Linked DNA regions of Homo sapiens. The protein of the gene in region 2 binds, or shares a complex with, the protein of the main gene of each other region. Each region holds a gene or a part of one and is shown on either strand. Other genes may lie near its edges. A codon is read from its position in the direction of its gene.

What was found.
Region 1: the proteins of HCRTR2 (region 2) and HCRT are in contact, whole or in part, in a cryo-EM structure (PDB 7L1U), measured with the Homo sapiens proteins. Residues at the interface, in NP_001371201.1 of Homo sapiens: Thr111, Val114, Trp120, Pro131, Gln134, Thr135, Val138, Gln187, Val209, Cys210, Asp211, Phe227, Thr231, Ile320, Ser321, Asn324, Lys327, Arg328, Phe333, Ala334, Thr336, Arg339, Val342, Tyr343, Phe346, His350, Tyr354; in NP_001515.1 of Homo sapiens: Asn89 (codon at 5,896), His90 (codon at 5,893), Ala91 (codon at 5,890), Ala92 (codon at 5,887), Gly93 (codon at 5,884), Ile94 (codon at 5,881), Leu95 (codon at 5,878), Thr96 (codon at 5,875), Met97 (codon at 5,872).

Annotation. Positions count from the first base shown.
Region 1 is NC_000017.11:42,178,390-42,190,209, forward strand, and holds HCRT (hypocretin neuropeptide precursor precursor), read right to left. Parts: upstream 7,064-11,820; 5' UTR 6,977-7,063; coding exon 6,956-6,976; intron 6,140-6,955; coding exon 5,765-6,139; 3' UTR 5,671-5,764; downstream 1-5,670. Other genes in the region: voltage-gated delayed rectifier potassium channel KCNH4, read right to left, coding at 1-88, 404-637, 2,481-2,556; GHDC (GH3 domain-containing protein isoform 1 precursor), read right to left, coding at 11,314-11,532, 11,796-11,820. UniProt on the Homo sapiens protein: Neuropeptides that play a significant role in the regulation of food intake and sleep-wakefulness, possibly by coordinating the complex behavioral and physiologic responses of these complementary homeostatic functions.
Region 2 is NC_000006.12:55,167,871-55,181,101, forward strand, and holds the start of HCRTR2 (orexin receptor type 2), read left to right. Parts: upstream 1-6,644; 5' UTR 6,645-6,717; coding exon 6,718-6,940; intron 6,941-13,231. UniProt on the Homo sapiens protein: Nonselective, high-affinity receptor for both orexin-A and orexin-B neuropeptides. Triggers an increase in cytoplasmic Ca(2+) levels in response to orexin-A binding.

The DNA.
Region 1 (11,820 bases), on a different chromosome or scaffold from region 2:
ATATCCTTGAAGGAAAAGAGGAACAGCACGACCTCCCCCATCTCATTCTTGATGGGCATCATGTCCAGGAGGCACCAAAAGGCTGAGCCTGTAGGCATGGAGAGAGGGAAGGGAGGAGCATGGGCAGCCCCATGGCATGCCTTTCTCCTCATCCCTCTCATCCTCCTAGACATAGTTAAGAGCTTGGCAAAGCAAGAACCAAAAGGAACCTCAGAGATTCTGTCAGCCGATTCCTTCATCTTTCAAATGGGGGAACCCAGGACCAGAGAGGTCAGGGATACGCTCCGTCACAGTCAGCTTTTGGCAGTGTGGGGACAAGCACTCAGACTCCTACTGTGCCCAGTGCCCTCTGGATAAGGCTAGGGGTCTAGGCAGAGCTGCAGGGTGGGGTGAGCCCCCTCACCATCCTTGCGGTAGAAGCAGATTTCAGCCCGGTGCTCCTGGTGGCCCTCCAGGGCTTTGTGCAGACGCTGCAGGGCTGGCTCACTGGTCTCTGGGCCGTAGAGGAAACGGCAGCTGCAGGTCTTCTGCATGACCTCGGTGCGACCGTAGCCTGTGAGCTCGCAGAAGCCGTCGGAGCAGTAGACGATGGGAAAGCCCCGTGTGCCCTGTGCGTTGGCCAGCAGGAAGTTGCTGTCTGTGGGAAGAAGAGGTCAAGGTCAGGTCAAGGCTGGGAGGCGAGCTAGCTTCCAGGTGGGCAGCACTTCCTCTAAGTTGGGGTTAGAAGTCACAGAGCCAGAAGCTTCCCAGGTTTCCATGTTGCTCCTGACCCCACTTTGGGATATTCTGAATTGAGAATTGGAGAAGTTGGAGCAAAGAGACAAGGACTTGAGACAGGACTTAAGCAGGGTCTAACGGGGAGTTGGAGAAGGACCCCAGGAGGTCATGCCATCCATCCCCCTGCCTTCCAACTGGTGAGCTGTCACTGTAGAAGGCAGTATAGCATGGTGAGTAAGAGCCTGGGCTCCTGCAACCCTCCACTGCCACTTACTAACTGTGTGACCTTGGGCAAGTTGATGACCTCTTCTGTGCCTAAGCTTTCCTTATTTGCAAAGTAGGGCATAATAGGCCTTCCTCACATGGTCGTTGTGAGAGTTACATGAGTTAACTTGGGGAGAACAAGTCCTAGCACATGGTAAGTGCTACTCTGAGAAGGTGAAATTTTTTCCCCACATTCACTTGGCTTTCTTCCTATTACAGAGTAAGCAGGGCAGAGATTCTGATGACACCACACCCATTTATTGATAGGAAACCAAAAGGCAGAGATTATCCAAACTCACAGATCTCCTTAGTGTGGGGGCAGACAGTGATGAGTGCTGTCTTCCTTCCCTGCCTTCCAGAGAAGGTCCACTTTTTAGCATTCTTGTAGCTGCTTTCAGGGGATCTGCCCCACTGCTCAAAGTCTAATGGGAGAGGGCATTGAGCGTATAGCTCCAGCAACCCCCAGCAGCAGAACCCGAGCTGTCTCCCTCCAGCTCCAATGGGTGGGAGGCCAGGGGGACTCCTGTGGGCCATCCAGGGACAGAGACTCAGCTAAGAGATGGGGCCTGTGACACAACCAGTCCTGGTGCTCTAGGAGGGATGACTGTCTGGGGGCAGGGAGGCTGATGGGGACACTGAAGGTGCCTGGGAGGCACTGGGCTCTGGGCACAGCCTCCTTCTTCCATCCCAGGGCCTGTTGCCCCGGTGATGGGCGCTATGGAAACAAGGTGGTGGGGAAGAGGGTAGGGCCCGGCGGCTCAGTTTCCGCCCTCGGGTACCGCTCCCCCACCATCCAGATCCCGGCCAGGGTTCCCGAGGGAATGGCGGGGTTGGGGGAGGTGAGGGCGGGGAATCTCTGGGTTCCAGAGTGGGAAGAGGGAATGGCGGGAGAAGAGGCGGGGGAGGAGTGATGTGGCTGTCCAAGGTGCTGAACCTGAAACCCAAGCTACGTTGGGCGAGCTGGGAGTTCCCACCGTCGCACAGACCGCTCCCCTCCTCCTGCCTCACCCACCTTAGACACTGACGCCCCACGATTTGGGGGCGCGCGACCTCAATCCAAACTAGGTCCTGCTGAAGTCTGATCTTTTCTCCTTTTTTTCTGGAGGTAGTGGGAGCTGGAGTCTGTGAGTAGACCCCAGAATGCCCGGCCACTTTGCCCCACTTCTGTGTCTCGGATACCCCCATACACGCCCCCAGCACAGCTCTGCCCGAGAGTGGGCGGCTCCGAAGGACCCTCCTCCGCTCTGCCGCACAAAGAGCCTCTTCTGCCTCGAGTCACACCCCCTAACCTTGGCCCCCGTGCTCTCGGCCCTTTCCCCTCCTCCCCTCGCAGGGCACTCCCCGCCCTGTTCCTGCACCGCGGCTTTGGGAGTTCCTAGACCCGCACCTCCATTCTCTCCCCTCGCCTCGGGTCTCACCATGTCCAGGAGATCCGAGACGGCCCCGAGGATACTTGCCCCCCAGCTCGAACCTCAAGCCCCGACCTCCGTCCCACTCACGCGTTCCGTCAAAACGGGTGGCGATGGTGTCCAGGAAGGTGTTTTGCGGGGCCAGCAACCCCTTCATGACCGGCATGGCCCCGGGGCGTGGGTTCAAGGCGCGGCGCTGGGGAGCTTTCAGCGCGGCCGGGCCGGAGGGGGCGCGCTGTCGGAGGGGCCGGGGCGCCCCATGCGCCCTCCTGCCTCCTCCCCTCCCTCTTACTGCCGCTGCCGCTGCCGCTGCCTCTGCTCCGAACCCCGTAGCTCTCGGCTCGGCTCAGCGCCGTTTCGGTCCCCCCCACCTCCCCACGGGCCAGGTTCTTCCCCTCGGGCTCGGCCCGCACCCGCCACGTGGCCCCACACGGGGAGGGGCCGCTAGCGACACCCGCACCCCTCTGGGCAGCCCTCCTCCCAGAGGGGAGCGGCCCACGCGTGTCTCTCGGGGAGAGAATTCGGGGCACGCCCACCGGGAGGGGAGGCCTGAAATGATGGGCGGGGCTTGAATAACAGACCCGCCCTCTTCCAGGCTGGCCACGCCTCCACACGTGGTTCCCTGGCTGCTCCTTGTGGCTCCACCTCGCGGGTTTTCCCGCGCGGCGTCCACGCTGGGCTGGTGTCTGGTTCACAGTGCCGCCTACTGGAGTTGACATATTTCGCAGCACCCACAGGCCAGTAGCTCCAGCGTGAGACAGCAAGGGTTAAGAGGCTAGTTTGCTGGTAGAGAATGGACAATGGGAAGGCTTGAAACCCCAACTCTAGAAAGCACCATTCTTACCTCCTGCCTCAGTTTTCCCAAGACACCCTGGCGAACTCTGCCTACTGAGACACAGCATGGTGGAATGAAAAGAGCTTTGGAGTCCACCAGGTAGAGTCCCAGCTCTAGACACCAATCGTGTGATATCCTCTCCAAGCCCACTTTCCTCATCTGTAAAATGGAGCTGATAATTCTTACCTGATGCAGTTACCGTGAGAATGTAATACCATAATGCATGTCTTTGGTACAAAATAAGTGTCTTGAAGGGCAGTTGCCTGCCTGTTTTCCCTCTTCCTACTGTCTTAATCCTCCTCTCTGCTGCCCTTCAAGTGGAAGAGAGGCTGGAGGCAAGTTTGGGAGAAACTACCTCTGAAAAAGATAGTTTCGAGGTGGGCAGAGTCATGGCTTGCAAATCTCCAAGGATGCACATGTGAACTTTGACCTCTAACTTCTCCAAGATGGAACCAGTACAGCAGCAAGAGGGACCAAAGTGAGACTAGACACAGGACTTTCTCACTACCTATGCAGAAAATTGAGGCAGCTGAGTTCTGTGGCTGAGGGTGGCTGCTTCCCACGACAAAACAGCTGAAGCAGTGAAAGTGGGAACCCTATGGGCAAGGAGGGCAGGCTAAATTCTCCCCACCCTCTGAGCTAGGTATTATCTGGGATGTTAGATTGCTAAGAAGTGCCACATTTTTCTGTGTCTCTACTTTTGTTGTTGTTGTTGTTCTTGTTGTTCTTGTTCTTGTTGTTTTTGAGACGGAGTCTTGCTCTGTTGCCCAGGCTGGAGTGCAGTGGCATGACCTCAGCTCACTGCAACCTCTGCCTCCTGGGTTCAAGCAATTCTCCCGCCTCAGCCTCCTTAGTAGCTGGGATCACAGGCGTGCATTACAATGCCCGGCTAATTTTTGTATTTTTAGTAGAGATGGGGTTTCGCCATGTTTGCCAGGCTGGTCTTGAACTCCTGACCTCAAGTGATCCGCCCGCCTCAGCCTCCCAAAGTGCTGGGATTACAGGCATGAGCCACGGAGCCTAGCCTGTGTCTCTACTTTTGGATGTTATATTAGTTTCCTAGGACTGCCATAACAAAGTACCACAAAGTGAGTGGCTCAAACAACAGAAACCTATTGTCTCACAGTTCTGGATGCTAGAAGTCCAAGCAAGGTCAGGTGAAGAGCGTTGGTTCCTTCTGAAGGCTATGAGGGAGAATCTGTTGCATGCCTCTCCCCTATCTTCTGGGGGTGGGGGTGCTGGCAATTTTTGGTGTTCCTTGGCTTGTAGGAGCCAATCTCTACCTTCATGTTCACATGGGTTCTCCCTGTGTGTGTTTCTGTGTTCCAATTCCCTTTTTTATAAGGACGCCAGTCACAGTGGATTAGAGGCCCACCCTACTCTAGTATGACCTCATCTTAACTAATTGCATCTGGAAGGACCTTATTTCCAAATACAGCCACATTCTGAAGTGCCACGGGTACGGACTTCAACATATGGATTTTGGGAACACCAGTAACAGGTGTCTTTGGCTGGAGTTGCAGTAAAATCTTGTACTGCCCCTGCTTAAGAATGTCCCATGACTCTGTTACCTACAAGATAAAGTGCAAAGCCCGATGATTTGTGAGAGCCTTTGCGAGCTGTGCTGCACTGACTGTAACTGTGTCCCTTCCTGAGCCTCTCCACTCCCCACACCCTATACCCCATGATGCAGCCATTCTGGATGACTCATTGTTGAAGTTCAAATTCCCTGCCTTTTCAGCAGGATTGACTCCCACCCCTTCCTAGCTGGATTCTGCTGCTCTATGCAGCTTGCCTGCCTTCCTTCCTTCCTTCCTTCCTTCCTTCCTTCCTTCCTTCCTTCCTTTCTTTCCTTTCTTTCTTTTCTTTTTTCTTTTTCTTTCTTTTTTTTTTTTTTTTGACAGTGCCTCCTTCTGTTGCCCAGGCTGGAGTGCAGTGGCCCAATTATGGCTCAAACTCAAACTCCTGGGCTCAAGCAATCCTCTCGCCCACCATACCCCGCTAATTAAAAAAACTTTTTGGAGAGATGTCTCACTCACTATGTTGCCTAGGCTCGTCTCGAACTCCTTGCTTCAAGGGATCCTCCTGCTTTGGCCTCCCAAAGTGCTGGGATTACAGGCGTGAGCACCGCGCCCGACCGCTGCAACCTTTCTTGCTTTCCTTCCCCTTCCGCGTCTCTGGGTAAAGTCCCCGCTACAGAATGCCTAGCAGAGCATCGTAGGAGTCCCGCATGGCCCGATCCAAGCATGCACCTGTGCAGTTCTCTCTGTGCCCCAGGGCCTTGCACTGGGAACTCCCCAACCAAGAGTGTTTCCGATTCAACCACGCAAAAGCTAAGGCTGGTGCCCGACAGCCGGGCTTCCAGGCCCAGCTGTCCTCCGCAAGACGCTTTGCCACCCCGGATGGGCAGGACGCGACCGCACAGGAACAGAGACCAGTCACACGAATGGAGACTCGTCTTTATTGCCTTTTTTCTGGGGGCTGACGCTGGGTGGGCAGAGGGCAGAGGCCTGGGCCAGGACAGGGCCCGAAGAACGACTCAGATCCCGGACTGTCCTCCGGGCGCGACGGAGGCGGCGGCCGGGGCGGAACAGCGGCGCCCGAGGCAGGGGCGCGGCGCTGGCTCTGCGCCTGCGCGGCGGCCCATGGTCAGGATGCCCGCGGCGTGGTTGCCGCTGGCCTGCAGGAGGCGCTGCAGCCGACCCTGGAGGCCCGGGGGCCCGGACCTCCGCTTGCCCAGCGTGAGGATGCCGGCCGCGTGATTGCCCGCGCCGTGCAGCAGCTCGTAGAGGCGGCAAGAGCAAGTCTTTTGACGACAGCAGTCGGGCAGGGGCTGTGCAGCCGCCCCGGACGACAACAGCGCGGGCGGCAGCAGCAGCAGCAGCAGCAGTAGCGTCACGGCGGCCCAGGAGACCTAGGGAGACGGAGACAGGGCGCTGGGGGGGTCTTCCCACGGCGCCCGCCACCAGCTCCCACGCCCAGGACCTGCCCCTCTGGCTCCGCGCCCCCTCCAAGCCTGCACTCCTTTCTGGCTGTCACTTAGTTCTCCTTGCTTTGCGCCCTTGCTGGTATCGGCCTACTTTCCCTGCTCCTCCTTCAAGACCCAGCAGAGCATCTCCCCCAGGAAGCCTTTTGAGACCCCCTGGGCAGAGTGAATCCCCCTTTTCTCTGGAGACTTAGGCCACTGTGCCACCACTAGGGCACTTGCCACTCCACCTGAAAACAGGAGTGTCTGTCTGCAGCAGAAGTTGTAAACTTGGGAAAAACCCGGGCCCTACTGAGTCCCCCCAACTTCCTCTCCACAGCAGGGAAACACATGGAAATCAGGAACTAGCAAGACTCCAGAATGCTCTCTCATCTGCCTGCCCCCTTGCAGGAGTGACTGAACTCCGTTGCTTTGAACCAGTTTCCTGCCCTTTCAGAGGGCACAGCTCCCTTACCTGTAAACTGGGTATACTAGAAATAATTTCTACTCTGCAAGGCTGTTGGGAGGATGACAAGAGATGACAGGTGCAAACGGAGCACCTGACACATAGAGCTCAGCAAACACAGGCTCTTAGCAAAACAGCACCCAACCCAATGTGAGCCAAGGCAGGTGCTCCTGCCTCAGAGCACACCCAGGAAAAGACCAAGAGTGGAGACACCTTTGGCCTTTCTTCCAGCCCTCTGAGCAAGCACTCTTTTTGCTTCTCTGGGATGGTGAGTCACCCCTCCATCCCTGGATCTTTACCTTTGTGGAAGGAAGGTTCATGGTGTCTGGCGCTCAGGGTGGGGTAGCCGGGAAAGGAGATGTCTGTGGTGGTTCAAAAAGCCAGGAACCTTGAGGCTGTCAATTGTGACCCACTCCCAGGGGTCTGGGGTTTATAGTGCTCTGAGGTGGCGGGGAATTGACAGGCACTTGCGTCCACACCCAGGCCAGACAAAGGCAAGTCTAAGATTAGCCTGCTGCAGGGGGGCCGTCTCCAGGCTGGGCCCAAGGAATGGCCGCTGCGGCGTTCAGAGGCCAGGGTTGGATCACTGTGCCCCTGATCACCCCCTTGTCTGTCTATCTGCTCCCTGGAGATGGGGCGGTCTCCGGGCACTAATGAGGCCACCTTGCACCCAGGAATCTGGGAGCACAAAAGAGGCGCTGGCCTGGGACAATATGGAGGGAGGCAGCTGCTAATTAGGGGCGGGAGAGAGGCAGACGCGAGACCCCACATTATGTGTGTGGGGGGTGGAGCAGCCAGCAGCAGTCCTCTCCCTCCCCTGCTTCTTGTCGCTGCTCCTGGGGACTGTCAGGCTCCAGGACCTTCTTCCTTCATGGAAAGGCTCCTTAGCTGCCCCCTCCCCCTAGCTTTTTTTCTCCCTTCTGCCCTTTCCACTAGCCTCTGAGATGGAAAACCTTGAAAACTCAGCCTAGACAGTGGGAGGTAAGAAGCCAAAACCAAGCCCAATTTCTCTTTCTTTCTTTTCTGTGTGTGTGTGTGTGACTAAATTTTGGTCTTGTTGCTCAGGCTGGAGTGCAGTGGTATGGTCATCTTGGCTCACTGCAACCTCCGCCTTGGGTTCAAGCGATTCTCCTGCCTCAACCTCCTGAATAGCTCCTGAATAGAATTACAGGCACACGCCACCACAACCAGCTAATTTTTGTATTTTTAATAGAGACAGGGTTTCACCATGTTAGCCAGGGTGGTCTCAAACTCCTGACCTCAAGTGATCCACCCACCTCAGTCTCCAAAAGTGTTGGGATTACAGGCGTGGGCCACTGCACCAGGCCCCCCCGCTTTTTTTTTCTTCCTTCCTTCTTTCCTTCTTCCTTCCTTCCTGCATTTCTTTCTTTCTTTCTCTCTCTCACTCTCTCCCTCTTTCTTTCTTTCTTCTTCTTCTTCTTTTTTTTTTTTTTGAGACGGAGTTTCACTCTTGTTGCCCAGGCTGGAGTGCAATGGCGCAATCTCAGCTCACTGCAACCTCCACCTCCAGGGTTCAAGCAATTCTCCTGCCTCTGCCTTCTGAGTAGCTGGGATTACAGGCATGCGCCACCATGCCTGGCTAATTTTGTATTTTTAGTAGAGACAGGGTTTCTCCATGTTGGTCAGGCTGGTCTGGAACTCCTGACCTCAGGTGATCCGCCTGCCTCAGCCACCCAAAGTGCTGGGATTACAGGCATGAGCCACCATGCCTGGCCTTCTCTCTTTCTTCATTTTCTTTTCTTTTTCTTTTCTTTCTTTTTTTTTTTTTTTTTTGAGACAGTCTCACTCTGTCGCCCAGGCTGGAGTGCAGTGGCGCGATCTCGGCTCACTGCAAGCTCCGCCTCCCGGGTTCACGCCATTCTCCTGCCTCAGCCTCCTGGCAGCTGGGACTACAGGTGCCCGCCACCACGCCCAGCTAATTTTTTGTATTTTTAGTAGAGACGGGGTTTCACTGTGTTAGCCAGGATGTTCTCGATCTCCTGACCTCGTGATCTGCCCGCCTCGGCCTCCCAAAGTGCTGGGATTACAGGCGTGAGCTACCACGCCCAGCCCTCTTTATTTTCTTTCTTGAGAAGGTTTCACTCTGTCACCCAGGCTGGAGTGCAGTGGGACAATCATAGCTCACTGCAGCATCAAATGCCACGGCTCAAGCAATGCTCTCACCTCAGCCACCCAAGTAGCTGGGACCACACAGATGCATGCCACAATCCCTGGCTAATATTTAAATTTGTTTGTAGAGACTGGGACTCCCAGGCTGGTCTCAAATCCCTGGCTCAAGCCATCCTCCCCCTTCAGCTTCCCAAACTGCTAGGATTACAGGTGTGAGCTACTGTGCCTGACCAAACTCAGTTTCTACCAGAGGCTGATAGAAAGCTTCTACCTCCCCAGCTTTCTCCCTGGCTCAGGCTACCTGGAGGGGAGGAATGTAGTCCCACTCTACAGTCAACACGGAGTGAGCCGCCATGCATTGAAGAACACATGTCATCTCCAGGCCCAAGCTTCTTATTCACAACCTCTTTTTTTTTTTTTTTTTTTTTTTTTTTTTTTTTTTTTTTTGGAGATAGAGTTTCACTCTTGTTGCCAAAGCTAGAGTGCAAAGGCACGATATTGGCTCATTGCAACCTCTGCCTCCTGGGTTCAAGCAATTCTCCTGCCTCAGCCTCCCAAGTAGCTGGGTTTACAGGTGCACACCACCATGCCCAGCTAATTTTTTGTATTTTTAGTAGAAACACAGTTTCACCATGTTGGCCAGGCTGGTCTTGAACTCCTGACCTCAGGTGATCTGACTGCCTCGACCTCCTAAAGTGCTGGGATTACAGGCATGAGCCATGGCACCTGGCCTACAACCTCTTTATTGAGCTCCTGCTGCATGCCACACCAGGCACTGGGCATGGGGGCAATTGTGCACAGGATCTAGCCCAGTTTCCAAGGAACTCATATTCCAGGTGGGAGGCAGTTCAGGCATAATGATAGTTCAGTGAAGGAGAGGACTACTGCCCACATGAGCAAAGCTGAGCCAGTCACTCTGCCTGGGGTGGGCCTGGTAGGGGGTCCTCAAAGGCCTTGCATGAAAGCTAGTTTACATCAGGGGCAGCGGGATAGAGGGCATTACATAGAAGGGACAACTTGAGCAAACTCCTGGAGTTGACAGTGCTTAACAACCCTTAGATGGGAGGTGAGGCGTGGTCCTTAGTCCAGGCCTTCTTTCAAGCAAGGGGAGAGAGGTAGCTGCACATGTAGGTGAGGGCCAAGGTCAAAGGGTCTAATAGGCCAAATTGATTGGTCTTAATCCTGTGGGCGATGGGGGCCACCATGGGAGGTTTTTTTTTTTGTTTTTTTTTCCCGAGATGGTCTCGCTGTGTTGCCCAGGCTGGTCTTGAACTCCTGGGCATGAACCATCCTTCCACCGCAGCCTCTTGAGTAGCTGGGACTATAGGCCCATGCCACTGTGCCCAGCTTCACAGGAAGATTTTAACAGGATGGAGTGACAGGCGGAGGTGGGGGCCGGGTGGGTATGCAGCCAGGACCTGGGTGTGGGACATGGAATGGAGAAGCTATTCAGAGGCATCTGGATCCAGTGCTGCCTCTACTGAGGAGGAGCTGAGGTCTGCCCCTCCCATCAGCCTCCAAGATGGAAAACCTTAAAACTCCAGTCCAGGCAGTGGGAGGGAAGGAAGCCAAAATCTAGCCCAGTTTCTTTCTTTCTTTTATTTTAGCCTCTACAACCTTGTGGAGGCTGCGTTTCCTCATTAGTATGGAACAGTGAACCCAGATGGTCTCCGGAGTTGCTTCCTGCGGCGATGCCTTATGATGTGAAGTAATAGCTCTCCCTTCCCCACCGCAGAAGTGGTTTGTGGGTGCTGGCCTAGGATGTGCCACGAGTCCTCCAAGGCTCCTGTGTGCGCATGCAGCCTTGCCAGGCCCAGAGCAGAATGTTGGGGGAAAGTCCTGGAGCTCAGTGGGGGAATGGCTGGGCCGGGGTCCACTCCCGTTTCCCCAAAGCAGACCCTGAGGCAAGAATCTGGGTGCAAGAGGTTTATTTGGGAGCCATCCCAGGAAGCCCAAGGCGGGGGAGTGGGGAAGAGAGGGAAGGGAGAGCCCCCGCAGGAAGTACATGAATGAGTGGGTTACTGCTGCGGGCAACTGGGACTCCATCCTGCTGGGCATCCTCTGAGAGTTTATGTAGAATACACTTCAGAATTGTCCTGCTCAAGGACAATGAAGCTGAGGTCCTGCTCCTTATTGACTCAGGGTTGCTGCTCCTGGGGACATTAACCCCCCAACACTTCTAGCTTGCCCAGTGCACTGACTGAGCACACAGCTGTGGCCACCAGAGAACCTCTTTGGGCTGTGATACAGGAAACCATCGGTGTGCATGGTAACTCTCTAGCAGTGTCCTTCATGCCGGGACATGGGGACACGGGCAGGCACTGCTGGCATCTGCTAACCCCGGAGGCCCATACTTCAGAACCGGTCAGCTGGGCCAAGGCCTCTCTAAGGCCCAGCGGCTCTCATGGGCAAATGTCAGGTGACACAGAGTCAGAGACCCTGGCCAAGGACTCCCCATCCGGAGAGGTCCCAGAGGGAGGGGCGAGGTGGCCTCTGGGGGGAGCTGGGCGGTGGGGCAGGACTTGACTCAGGACACCACCCTCTCCTGCAGACACTGGGCCAGGTGCCTGTGCCGAAGGACCCGGGGCATCGCAGGGGGGAAGGGGGAGGAGGGGCAGGCAGCGAGGGCTGCCCGGAGTGCTCGGAAGGCTCCCTGCCCCACCAGGTGGACTCTGGCAGGGCCCACGCTGCCCCAGAACCGCAGGGACTTGTAGCGGGGAGAGGCTTCCTGAAGGCAGTGGTCCAGCTGGGAACAGAACAGCCTGAGTGAGCTGGTGTGTGACTGTGAGTGTGCACACGAGGCGTGTGTGGCTGTGCCCAGGCTACATGTGTTTAGAAGTTTTGTGTGGACAGGTGTGTGTCTGTGGGACTTAGCCCTCCCCTCCCAGAGCCCCAGGGAGCTTCTCCTCCGCCACCCCTCTCCTTCCCATCAGCCCTGATCTCCATGGCACCCTGGGAGTGTGCAGAGTGAAGGGGTCTACAGTCAGACCCTGTCCTCGTCTCCTTTACCTTGTCTCGATTTTCCTCTGACAGA
Region 2 (13,231 bases):
GGAAAGAGGAAGTGAATTAATAAAATAGCACACCCTACATAGAGACTGCTAATCCATCTCCAGTCTAAAGATTTAGTAATAGGCAAGAATATACATATCCAGGAATTTCCTTGGTGTTACATAAACAAAGGCGGCACATATGTATATTTTTCACAAAATATTCACTGTTTGAAGAAGGAATTACTCCCTTCAATTGAGTTCAGGCCTGATCAACAAGTAGTGATTGGCCAACAGCTAAATGCAAAGTGCATGCTAAGTCTGGGGATACAAAGATGAATGAGAAAACATTTATGCCCTTAGGAGAAAAACAAATATCTTTATCTCAGAGAATAGAGAAGGAGATTGATTCTCTTTGGGGGAGATGTCATCCTGAAGAGTATAACAAGTTCCCCTATAATTCTACTTTTCAGTACTGTTTAAAATACAACTGGATTTTTTTAAATATGTAAAATTTATATAATTTTACAAATGTCTTTGTTAAGAATTAAAACTATCATTAGTAAAGGACACAGCTGGAAAATTGAAAACATTTTGGTTCTCTACTGTGGAAACAGAATAGAGTAACAGCAAAAAGCGTATTTCTGGAATTGGACCCTGACAACTCTGCTTAAACACTCCACCACTTTCTAGCTATATGACCTTGGGTAAGTTACTTAACTTCTTTGTGTGTCAGTTTCTTCATTTGTAAAATTGGAATAATAGATGCTTTTTTTGAGACAGTGTCTCATTCTGTTGCCCAGGCTGGAGTGCAGTGGCGTGACCACAGCTCACTGCAGCCTCAACCTCCTGAGTTCAAGTGATTCTCCAACTTGAGCCTCCCAGATAGCTAGGACCACAGACACATGCCACCATGCCTGGGTAATTTTTTTTTTAAGTTTTTCATAGAAATAGTGTCTCACTAAGTTGCCCAACCTGGAAAATTGGAATAATAATTCATAAAATCTTCCTCCTAGATTTGTGAAGATCAATTGAGTTAATGTATGTAACGTACTTGGCACAGAGCTTGGCCCATGTAATCTCTCAATGAGTGCTAACATTACTTGTCTCACAAAAAGTTACTTACTTCCGTCTGGCACCAACTCCCTCTCTCACTTCCCACAATCTGGTTACCATTCATTCTTCAGTTCTCAGCTTAAACAATGTCTTTTCCATATGGTTTCATTGACGCCACTTTGGGAAAATAGATGTCTCTTCTGCTTGCATTTTCAGACCTTTTTAGGTGTATACCTTAGGGCATTTGCTTTACTGACCAAAATTATTTGCCGGCTACTCTGTGCTTTTCATGACACACTGAATAAGACAGGAAGAGTGTTTATCTATGCTCAACATAAGATAGGCATATAATGGAAGCTTCGTATATATTTGTTGAATAAAAAACATAAGGGGAAAATATCAGATCTAATAATGCAGGACAGGAGGCAAGATGGAACGGAGAGAACCTTGTCTGAGAAGAGACATAATTAAAACAGGGCATGGGAGGTAATAGAAAGATTGGAGGAAAAAGAGACAGAGAGACAGAAATGTTTGTGGTAATTTGTGACAAGTAGCTTTGATTGTTCATGGCCTAATCTTTTAGGGCATGAGGTTATTTCATTCTCTGTAGCCCACCGAGAGTGCGTACAGTGACACATGTTATGTAAGTCCCCTTTTCCCTTTTTATAAATGTCTAGACCCCCTGTGATTTGAGACTTTTCTAGAAGAATTTAGCTGAAGACCATATTGTTTTTTAAATGTAGTATTTGGAGCCTAGAGGTGCCAGATAACTTCCTGCAAAGCTAATGCATTTATTTTGGGAATATATAAGCTCAGTATCATCATTACCAACAGTGCTCAGACTTGATTTTATTTTCATTCCAACAGCAAAGGAAAGAAAGCAACTTCTTTCATGCTTCCATGCCACTCTGCATCTCTCTACCTTCACAGAGTTTCTCAATAATGGCAACATTTCCAGTTCACCAATGGACTGAGAGATCATTGAGGCTAGACTAGTCTTATTAATCCTTATACCCCAGCTCCTAGCCGAACTCCTGGACACACAATAGATACTCAGATACATTTACTGAAATGCATATAGAAAGTTACACCTGCAAAAAAGATGATCTCTCACCAGGAATAAGAAAATATAATCTGGGACAGCCCATATATGAGATCTCTAAACAACCTACCTATAACCACCAAGAAAAAAAAATACCTGAGTTTGAGATTTATTTTTCCGTCTCATTTTTAATATATTCCAGTTAGTGAAAGAGCTAAAATAAATGACAAGAAAAATTTAATCTAGGTATTTAAACAGAATTATTCTGAATGTTGTGAGCTACATTTCTTTTTTACCTTTTATTTATACATAGTATTTGTATATACTTATACAATATATTTATTTTGTATATATAAATATATTGTATTTATTTATACATGTAAATGTATAATATATTTATTTATACATAGTATTTATATATACATAGTATTTGTATATATTTATAGGGTACATGTAATATTTTGTTACACGCATAGAATGTGTAATGGTCAAGCCAGAATATTTAGAGTATCCATTACCTTAAGTATTTATTATTTCTCTGTGCTAGGAGCATGTTAAGTCCTCTCTTTTAGCTATTTTGAAATGTACATTGATGTTAACTATCATTAACACAGAGTAATTGATATGTATAGCAAATAATATTTGCAGTAGGATATCACATGTTTACTTATTTATTTATTTATTTATTTTTATTATACTTTAAGTTCTAGGGTACATGTGCACAACGTGCAGGTTTGTTACATATGTATGCATGCGCCATGTTGGTGTGCTGCACCCATTAACTCCTCATTTACATTAGGTATATCTCCTAATGCTATCCCTCCCCCCTCCCCCACCCCACGACAGGTTCCAGTGTGTGATGTTCCCCTTCCTGTGTCCAGGTGTTCTCATTGTTTAATTCCCACCTATGAGTGAGAACATACGGTGTTTGGTTTTTTGTCCTTGCGATAGTTTGCTGAGAATCATGGTTTCCAGCTTCATCCATGTCTCTGCAAAGGACATGAACTCATCCTTTTTTTGGCTGCATAGTATTCCATGGTGTATATGTGCCATATTTTCTTAATCCAGTCTATCATTGTTGGACATTTGGGTTGGTTCCAAGTCTTTGCTATTGTGAATAGTGCCGCAATAAACATATGTGTGCATGTGTCTTTATAGCAGCATGATTTATAATCCTTTGTGTATATACCCAGTAATGGGATGGCTGGGTCAAATGGTATTTCTAGTTCTAGATCCTTGAGGAATTGCCACACTCTCTTCCACAATGATTGAACTAGTTTACACTCCCACCAACAGTGCAAAAGTGTTCCTATTTCTCCACATCCTCTCCAGCACCTGTTGTTTCCTGACTTTTTAATGATCGCCATTCTAACTGGAGTGAGGCACTGGTCTGAAAATATCAATTCATTTAATTCTTTTAACAACCTTAAGGGGATATCATGGTACAAATTTAGAGCTTTCTTTTGTGTTTGTAAAATGGATTGATTCCTTTTCCCTACATCCAGCAGAAATATTTGAATTGAAGAGAAGAGTAATACCTAAGAACTAGAAATTCCTTTCTTATGTTTCAAAAGATATCAAAAGATCTAAGGAAGATATTCACATCAAAAATGAGTATTATAATATTTATTATCTATGGTGCACTTGCAAAAAAGAAAACAAGTAATAATCTGAAGATTTAAGTGAATATTTTATGACATTGGAGTACCACATATTTAGAAGAAAGCACCAGAGAAATCATAGATAGAAGGAAATGGAATATTTGTAGGATCAAGATAAATACAGCTTGTCATAAAATAAAGCAGGTATCAGGATAAAATCTTGAAAATATTTTCATTTCTCGTTATTTATAACTTCAATTTACTGTGATGATTAATTGTAGGTGGAAGATTTACGAAGAGAAGACTGAAGTATAGACAAGTTGAAGTGCCACAAAATGAAAGCTAATGACACTGACTACTTAGGAAATAGCAGACTGGGTCCATATTTATAGATTGTCAATGACAAGGAATTTGCAGATGTTAATGAATATAGATCCGAACTTAAGTTGCAACAACCTTTCCCACTTTGAGATGAATAGTGCATGGAAGAGTAAAATGCAGATGTTAATAAATCAGAGGAAGACATCGTGCCAGAGTATAAAGTTGACAGATTTATGCCGATGAACTTGAACAAAGCCACAGAAGGCCTACTTGTCAAATTTACTGGTGACAACAGGTCTGGAGAAATGGCTAATGTTTTGGATAATAGCATTAGAATTTAAGGTCTGTTTAAACTTCAAATTAACAGAATGAAATTAATATATGCACATATCAATTGGGTCTTTTGCTTATATATCATCTCTTAATAGAGCCTTTTTGAACAATCATTTCTAATGTGACCTTTGGGATTTTCTACTCATCATCACCTCATCCTGTTTGGTTTGCATTATAGCATCTATCCCTTCCTAACGTTTTCCCTATGTATTTGTTAGTTTGTTTTTTTTTAATCTAACTTTACTAGAAAGTAAAATGCATGGAAACAGCAACCTGTTTAACTTTGTATCACTAAGAGTGGAAAAATAACCCTCAGGAAATATTTGGTAAAATAATAAAATGCCCATTGATGCCCTTCTCTTAAAAAGAAATTTAATTAGTGCAGATTGGGGAAATACAACAATATTTCTCATAAAATGTGATATCTATACAATAACAGAAGTACTATGTCCCAAAAAGTATTCTATAAATAGAAGAAAGAACAGATGGTTTTGCTGCTGATTAATCCATTTATCTTTCGTAAATCATCTAATTTCCCCAGGAACAGCTTCCTCATCTATTAAAGGGGGTTAGTAATAGCTAAGCCCTCAGGGGTTTAAAAATGCATATGAAATAATTTTATAAACCATAAAGCACAAAACAAATATGAAAAATTATGATTGGAGGAGGGGGTGGGGTAGTTAACTAAATCTCAGTGTAAACCACCAATGTCTTGTGTGTGTTGAAAAAATAATTACATATAAAAACTGGTTGCATCCAAAGAATAATGTACTTTTTGCACTGGCAAGACTCAAACCATATTATTGTTACTTCCTCCCAGTTACATATTTTGCAAGATATTGACAATTGTCTAAAGGAAGACCAAACAGATGTAGGTGGGAGCTACTGTCATTTGAACAACATTGAAAAGAAAAATACTAAAAAAGAAACATGAGGGCATATAAAGGAGCGCTGGGGCTGTGATGTTTATTTTGAATCTGTGAAGCATTGTCATGTGGAAGATTTATTCTGTGTAGCACCAAGATGCAAACTAGGAATTAGAGGTAAAAGTCTCAAAAAGACAAATCGTGGCTTGAGACCTTGGTTTAATGTAAGAAACAGTTTTCTCACCCTTAGAGCACTCCCATAAGGATGGAAGTAGTGAATTGTGGTGGTCACATTCAAGCTAGATGGGGACATGTCAGCAATGTTATCAGGAGGCTTCTACTCTGAAGCTGAAGTTCAGACAAGATTTCCAGGCTCTTCCCAAGTGCAAGATTGTAATTACTTAAATGCAATATTTTTACCATGTTTATTAAGAATAAAAGGATCATGAATTCACATTCTGACAAATGCTAGAATACTTATTATTAGAGACAAAACCAGTGCATGAGAGAATGGCAGGTGACATCAGCCCTGAATCAATGGGAAGAAAGACCCAATGGGATGTGGTATTTACCAGAGAGAGCACTTCTGCTTAGATTGCTACATCCTACAGTGAATGTTTAATATCATTGAGTATATTGGTGGTCTGTCATGCTTGACAACATTAACTATGATCATATTTATGACACTTGGCGTCCTTCAAGAATTTGTAGCTCTATTTCACATGACACTTAACTATCGCAAATACAAATTCCAGCTAAATAGACCCTTCAGTTTAAAAACAGTCTCATTCTCAAATTTTAAGGAGAAAGTGAAGACGGAGATGTCTTAAAGACTCGGCAAGTACTAAGTTGGCAAATGTCAAATGTTAAAATAAGTTTATATTAAATGTTAAAGTGTTTGCCTGGAATGACTTTTCCATTGTCCTGCTTGAGAAACACAGAGGCACCTCCTTATTGCTTTTATATTTGCTTTACAAAGACAAATGTATCAACATGCTCTGTATTAATTGTATGTTGACATTTTTGTCATATCCACAGACTGATGCATGTCTGTGCATGGTTTATAATAAGTGCACGTAAAAATAGAGAAAATAAGTAGAAAAAGAGAGAGATTTAACTCTCACCCCCCACCCCCCAAAAAAACAGATTAAATTAGTTTTCATTACTTTTTTTTTTTTCTTCAGCTTCAGCTCTCCCTCAGCGAGGGAGGAGGCTGTGGGCTGCGGACTGAGTGCTGGAATGAGGAGTAATTGAGCTTCAGCTGAGCCGGACGTAGCTTTCTCCTCCTGGTGTCATTGCTGCAGCCTCCAGTGCCGGGTCCCTAGTTCCTCAGCTGCCTATCTTCCCGGTGCAACATCGCCTGTAAAGACAGCAAAGCCACCGCAGAAGTTGCCCGGCAGAAGACTCCGGAGGCATTGGCTCAGTAACTTTTCACGTCATTTTCTGCTCGGGAGCCCCTTCTAGCCTCTCCGCGCAGCCTTTCCCACCGCAAATCACCAGTGCTCATGGGGCAGGCGGAGAGGAGCTTGCAGCATTGAGCGGAACCGGACTTGAGCCCGTGATGTCCGGCACCAAATTGGAGGACTCCCCCCCTTGTCGCAACTGGTCATCTGCTTCGGAGCTGAATGAAACTCAAGAGCCCTTTTTAAACCCCACCGACTATGACGACGAGGAATTCCTGCGGTACCTGTGGAGGGAATACCTGCACCCGAAAGAATATGAGTGGGTCCTGATCGCCGGGTACATCATCGTGTTCGTCGTGGCTCTCATTGGGAACGTCCTGGGTGAGTCTCCTCCCGGGCAGCCCTCCTAGGGGCTATCACCCCCTCTCCGCCCCGGGCTGAGAAGGCTCTAAAGAGACCCCTCCCTCCCCCGGGAAGCAAACAAAGAGGTCGCTGCTCTCGGATGGGGTTTTCTAATAAAATAATAATAATAATAGAAAGTTTTCTGATTTTCCGAACCGGGACCGAGCCCTGGAAAGGTTATTCCCTGTTTTGCAGGAATAACGGGGAAACCGCGTTTCTTTTTCGAGCACCTAGATTACAAGCGCAGGGAGAGGGGCCGCGGCAGGGATCTCCAGGTGGATTTTGTTGAGTGTGTGTGTGTGTGGGTGGGTAGGTGGGGGAGTCAGTCATCCCTTTGTGTAACGTGGCTGGGTGTTTCAGGGGGGTTGGGACGAGACAGAGCTTGCAGAATACAAAGCTACATCCCTAAGGAGCAAGCTCTCTGTGGCTGTGGAAGTCACAAAGCATTTGTGAGCTAGGTGGCATTGCCCTTTGGCGAGGAGGTTTAGTCTCCAGTCAAGAGGTGGTAATGAACCAGCAGGGAGTGGAGACGGAGGCAAAGCAGGGAAGTGCACTCACTCATAGAAGCTGAATTAAACAGGATCCATGCCTGGAGCAAGAAGGAGGGGCATCGGAGAAAAGTACCACAGAGATCTCAATCATCCATCCATCCATTCATTCTTACATCCATTCAGCCAAATATTTTTTTTTTTCAGTCTGCTTGTTGCCAGGCTCAGGAATTATTCATGTCAACTGTTTGTTGTTGTTTTGTTTTGTTTTGTTTTCTCCAAAGATGAGACTAAGCTTAATGCTAGGCTATTTGTCCCGGTCTAGGTCTGTATGCAAACACGGGTTTCCTCGACCCCTCATCCCCCTCCCCCTAAACAATTTCTGAGGGTTGGGGAGGGGGTGAGATGGCAACATGGTGAGTGCGATGATGGAATGTATTAGGGCAGTTGGGGAATATACCTCCAGAAAAGGGGCTTTGGAAGGGAGGGATAACTTGAAATAAATTGTGAATGGAAGGAGAGTGTACCTTGATGAATGAAGAGTAGAAGGCTGGGAGACTTTTCACATGCAGAGGGCAGTGTGGAGGAAGTCTCTGCTGAAAATGACAGGAGATGGAGGAGGCTAGGAGTTGCTCTTGATTTTCATTTATAAAAGAAGAAGAAGGTGAGTGAGGTGAGATAGGCTGGGAGGCTTTGCAGTCAAAAGCAAAGAACTTGTAGCTGCAATGGGGACTGACAAGGAAATTATCAGGCTTTCAGACTAACCTGATTTTTGCCTTCTCTCCCAAGTGTGTTGGTCTGGGTAGAAATCATCCCGAGTAGTCTCTCACCAACTCAGCAGGCAGAATAGATGATAGTATGTGAATGACAGGAGTTCTCCAGAGTGTTGGTAGAATGTTATTTGAGGAGACAAGAAACCTCTGAGAACTTTAGTACATTTTTAAATATTATTTTTAGACTGTTTTCCTTTGGTTGATTTAAAAGTAAAAATAAAGGAAATCTTTTTGGGATACTAACAAAATGAAACAAAAGTGGAAATACACAAGATTAGGATTCTTGTTATAAGCATAATTCTGTTGATAATAATCCTAATCTTGCTTTCCTTCTTCTTGTTACCCATCCTTAGGATTACATCTCTTAAGACACATGGCTACCAGCATAGCAACATTTTACTGCATTATGCCAACACTTATTGATAAGTGAATAATCAAAATTGAACATATATTGAGTACCTACTGTGTGCCAGAGCCCTTCATGTACATTCTCTCCCTTAAATATCAAAATAACCCACATTAGCCAGAAGAAGAAACAAGACTTAGAGAAATAAAATGACGTATTAAGGGACATAATTTAAATTCAGTTCCATTTTTTCTGACCTCAGATCCAGAATTCTCCATTGTTATTCCACTCTAGAGCTAAAAAGCATATAGAGAATAGATTCTCTGCTCCTGATTGTCTGCAAGTTTATTAGATGTGTTCCTGTTCTCCTCTGCATCAACGCCCACTGCCAATAAAGTACAATGAGGGATTAATGGCACTGTCATTCTCTTCACCAAAAACCTTTCCAGAGAAGCAGTAATTTTTTTATGAATAGCTATCAATAGTAACTATTTGCCTTCCTTATTTTAATTTTCGGCTGAATCTTTGTGGTAAAATGTGCTCTTCTTTGTTGTTATTGCATTTTTACCTTGCATAGACCTTGTAGTGAATAGTCTCCATATCCTAATTGCATAGTTTAGGGATACATGTTTGCTAGCCTGGGGAGTTTTAGTTTCAAGAAGGAAACACCTCTACAGTAAGGCTACTTGTTTCATAATGTCAAGGAAGATAGCACTGTCCACAGCCCCAAGTGCTGAAATGGCCAATTCCATTCAGCCTAAAAAGAAAGATTTACTCAAAGCACTCTGCCTTAAAGAAACTGACAGCTATTTTCCTCAGGACTGAATAACACTGAAATCCTCTCTGGTTGAACTGAAATGCATTCTTTTCTGACATACTGCCTGAAAGTTGATGAGGTTTAGGTTTGACATTTAAACAAACGAGTAGTGTCGTTACTCACAGACAACTTCCTGCTCTTTGATGTCACTGTCAAATTTGCAAAATGAATTAGATTGAGAATTGCTTCTTTGCCCCTCTGGTATAAGTAATTTTGCACATAGAGTGGTAGGACAGGATGTCACATGATTTATGCAAAATAAAGATGCAATATTAAGTATGAAGGTAAAATACCACAGTGTAGGCAGCAGATGTAATCACTGAGCCTTCAGGTCCAGTCACCATTTGTACTTTCATATAACTGCTTGGAAAATCTCAACCTTTTTGGGCTTACAAATATAATGCCATCAGTTAGAAGTCATCTTCTCCACAATGTCCTTTCATGAAGTGATGTAATAGGATATGCTGTGGGTAGCATAACAAAGTCTTGATTGTCCTCATCTCTTTTTCTTCTCCCCATAGTCCCTCTTTATCACTATGCCACCTCTCCACTCTCATATACTCCTCCCAAAGATGGAAAGCAGTTTCCTGGGGGAGTAAAGTTTTAAATAGAATGTTATGAGTATTTACATTCAATGAAAAGCTGTAAGCATGTTTAATGTGAAATTTTAAGTTCTAAGGAAGGAGCATAGGGTAAGGTTCTTTTTGGAAGGAGTATCTTTTCAGTATCTTCAGAATAATGCCACCTATAACCTATTCCTAACTATGTCTTCTACTACAGCTAAGTAGATGTATCAACTTATTCAATTGGTATATTGTGAGCATTATCATTTTTTTAAATTAGTGTGTATATCAGGGGAGCCTCTGGGGAAATGTAAAGAAATGTGACTGATGTTAATTTTTACTCCTGATTCCTTGAATGACAATTGTAGGGAGAAATGTGTTCTAGTCAGTTTAAACATTAAGTACCTAGGGAAAATGATCAATTTTCTGCTTCTCATATCTGCATTCAAAGATATCATATGTTTCATCTGGTATGCTTCTGTCATATCTGTTGTTGTCTCCATATGGAAAATAGGAAAACATCAGTCTAGCTATGCTTCTTGCTTCTTGTGTGCCATTAGCAAGTTATTGAACTATCCAAGTCAATTTTTTTATAATTACAAATTAAAGATCGATAATGACTGCATTATAGAAATAGTATCAGGATATAATGTACGTATACCCTCTATAAAGACATATAAAGGGACACAGGCATATACATATTTTTCTTGACACATAGACACTAATTAATGTCAATTTTTATCCCTTAATTTTCATGACTGAACTTTTTGTGATGTGGTGTATAGCCAGCTTCTGCCTTCATGGGCCAGTCTGTATCTCTGTAGCTCTTTATGGCCTCTGCCCCAGCCTTTTCCTTAATTGCATATTTTCCTAAAAGGTGTGAATAAAATGGTGTTGGCACACATTACTCTCCTTTTCCACACTAGCTCCACCCACCCATCTCCTTCATACTGATTGCTTAACATTGCCTTCTTGCCTTTAAATGAAAGCCATTCCTAACTATTGGAATAGTTTGCTTTCTCTCTCAACTTAAATTTGCCTGTGCTGGGTCCCATTCATTTAGAGTTTTTGAGTTGTTAATAGGTTGTTGATAGGCAGGTCTATCACTACTAGTGTTTTAAATAACACACACATTGGTAATATGTTGATTTAACTCATACATTGTTAAAATACATTGTGAAGTATTCATAGTTAAAATAAATTATCCATTAAGTAATTTACCTAATAACAGTTTACCCAAGTTAGGTGTGTGGAATGGGGAAATATTTGTAATAAGTTTGCTTCCTACAGAGTTAGTCTTGTGTCAGATATGTAAGTGGTAGAATTGCAAGTTCATGTTACTCCTAAGCCTAGAGACATTTATTTTCTGCTTCTCCGAATGCCCATTTTAGTTTCATGGGTGTTTGTAAACCCATCCTTACCTACACAGGAAGCAAAAAGGGGTTATTTCTAAACCCTTTTTAGATATAGAAATAATACATCACTCATCTCGGCCAAGACTCAATAGAATCATGAATAGTGACTGTAAAAGGTAATATTAACTATTAGGCTTTAAACCTATTGTGCATTTTAGTTTTAAAATGCAAACATGCTAATCTGAATAAGAATTAATCTGATGCCTCTACATTTTTGCTAAAATCATAACTGTTTAGTCTTACTTAGTAAAATAAATTATATCTTTGACTTAAAATCCCAATGATAACTTTTAAGATGGCTATTTCATAGATAACAGCAACATTTATCATGGACAGACAATAATGAGAATAACATGTGCAACTGATAATTTAAATGCAATGAGTTATTTCTGTATTTGAAAAAATATATTTGGGAAATGGGATAATTAAAAAATACCAGTTTTCAAGAGACCAAATCTAAAACTCAAACATAAACACAATGCTCCAGTTTTTAGAAAACTGTCTTGATTGTAGTAGTGCCTACATACTAAATTGTATCATATGATTTATATTAATTTTCCTTATTTTGTATTTTAGATTATATTTGAAAATTTTCATGTACTGCAGCTATGTTAGCATCTCAAAGTCTCCATATTCTCACTCCGCTCCGAAACATCCACTGCTGATGTTATTTAACTAGTGAAAGAAGATCCTTCCATGTTTCTTCTTATAGCATTCTGACATCTTCTCCACCCTAAGGAATGCTGGCTTTATTAAGTATGTTTCAGTCAATGACATGTGATTGGTGAAGCTGACGGTATTTGTCTTCAGTTCCTTTTTTCCCTGCAAAGGAAATTTGTTGAATATTTATTGGGTACTATATGCCAGGTACTATATGTCAGGCTCCACTTACATATACTCTATTGATGCCTTACAACAAACTTATAATGAGAAGATTAATAGGTTTTACAAATAAGAAAAATGAATTCAAAGAGCAATGCTAACTTACTCAAAAGTTTAGTCAGGCAGTAAATAGCAGCACTAGGTTTCAAATATGGATTTAACAAATTCCATGGTCCATGCTTATTCCATTACTTCATCCTGCCTCTTTCCTTAGCTTCTAACCCTGACTGGAGATGCATAGGCAAAAAGAGGAAGGAAGAGATACTTAGATGTGCCCTCTAGACAATTTACAGAGTTGTTTGGGCATGTTGCCATGCTGTTTTTCTGATAGACTACAGTTCTTCAGCTCTGAGGATGAGCTCATTTGATAAGCCAATCAAGGTCGGGCTAGGGTTACTTTACAAGAGAAAATTTCAAGGTAAAATAGGTGCTGCCAAAAATGCTTTTACCTGTTCAGGGGGTTGACTCACTGGAAAAAAAATGTTAGATAATTGTGGCCAAGGATTATTTTGTTATTGAAAGTGCTATTTTTAGACACAATTTGAGCCTGAGAGCCTAAACACTTAACACTTCACATAATCTACAGATATTTGTTTATTTTTCTTTTTGTCATGCATTGCCAAATAAATAGTATTTATTTAAACAAATCATGTTGCTATTGATTTTATTAAATAGATGAACTTTTTTTAATTTTTTTTTTTTGAGATGGAGTCTTGCTCTGTCACCCAGACTGGGGTGCAGTGGCACAATCTCGTCTCACTGCTGCCTCCACCTCCTGGCTTCAAGCTATTTTCCTGCCTCAGCCTCCCCAGTAGCTGGGATTACAGGCACATGCCACCATGCCCAGCTATTTTTTTTTTTTTTTGTATTTTTAGTAGAGATGGGTTTCACCATCTTGGCTAGGCTGGTCTTGAACTCTTGCCCTTGTTATCTACCCACCTCAGCCTCCCAAAATGCTGGGATTGCAGGCATGAGCCACTGTGCCT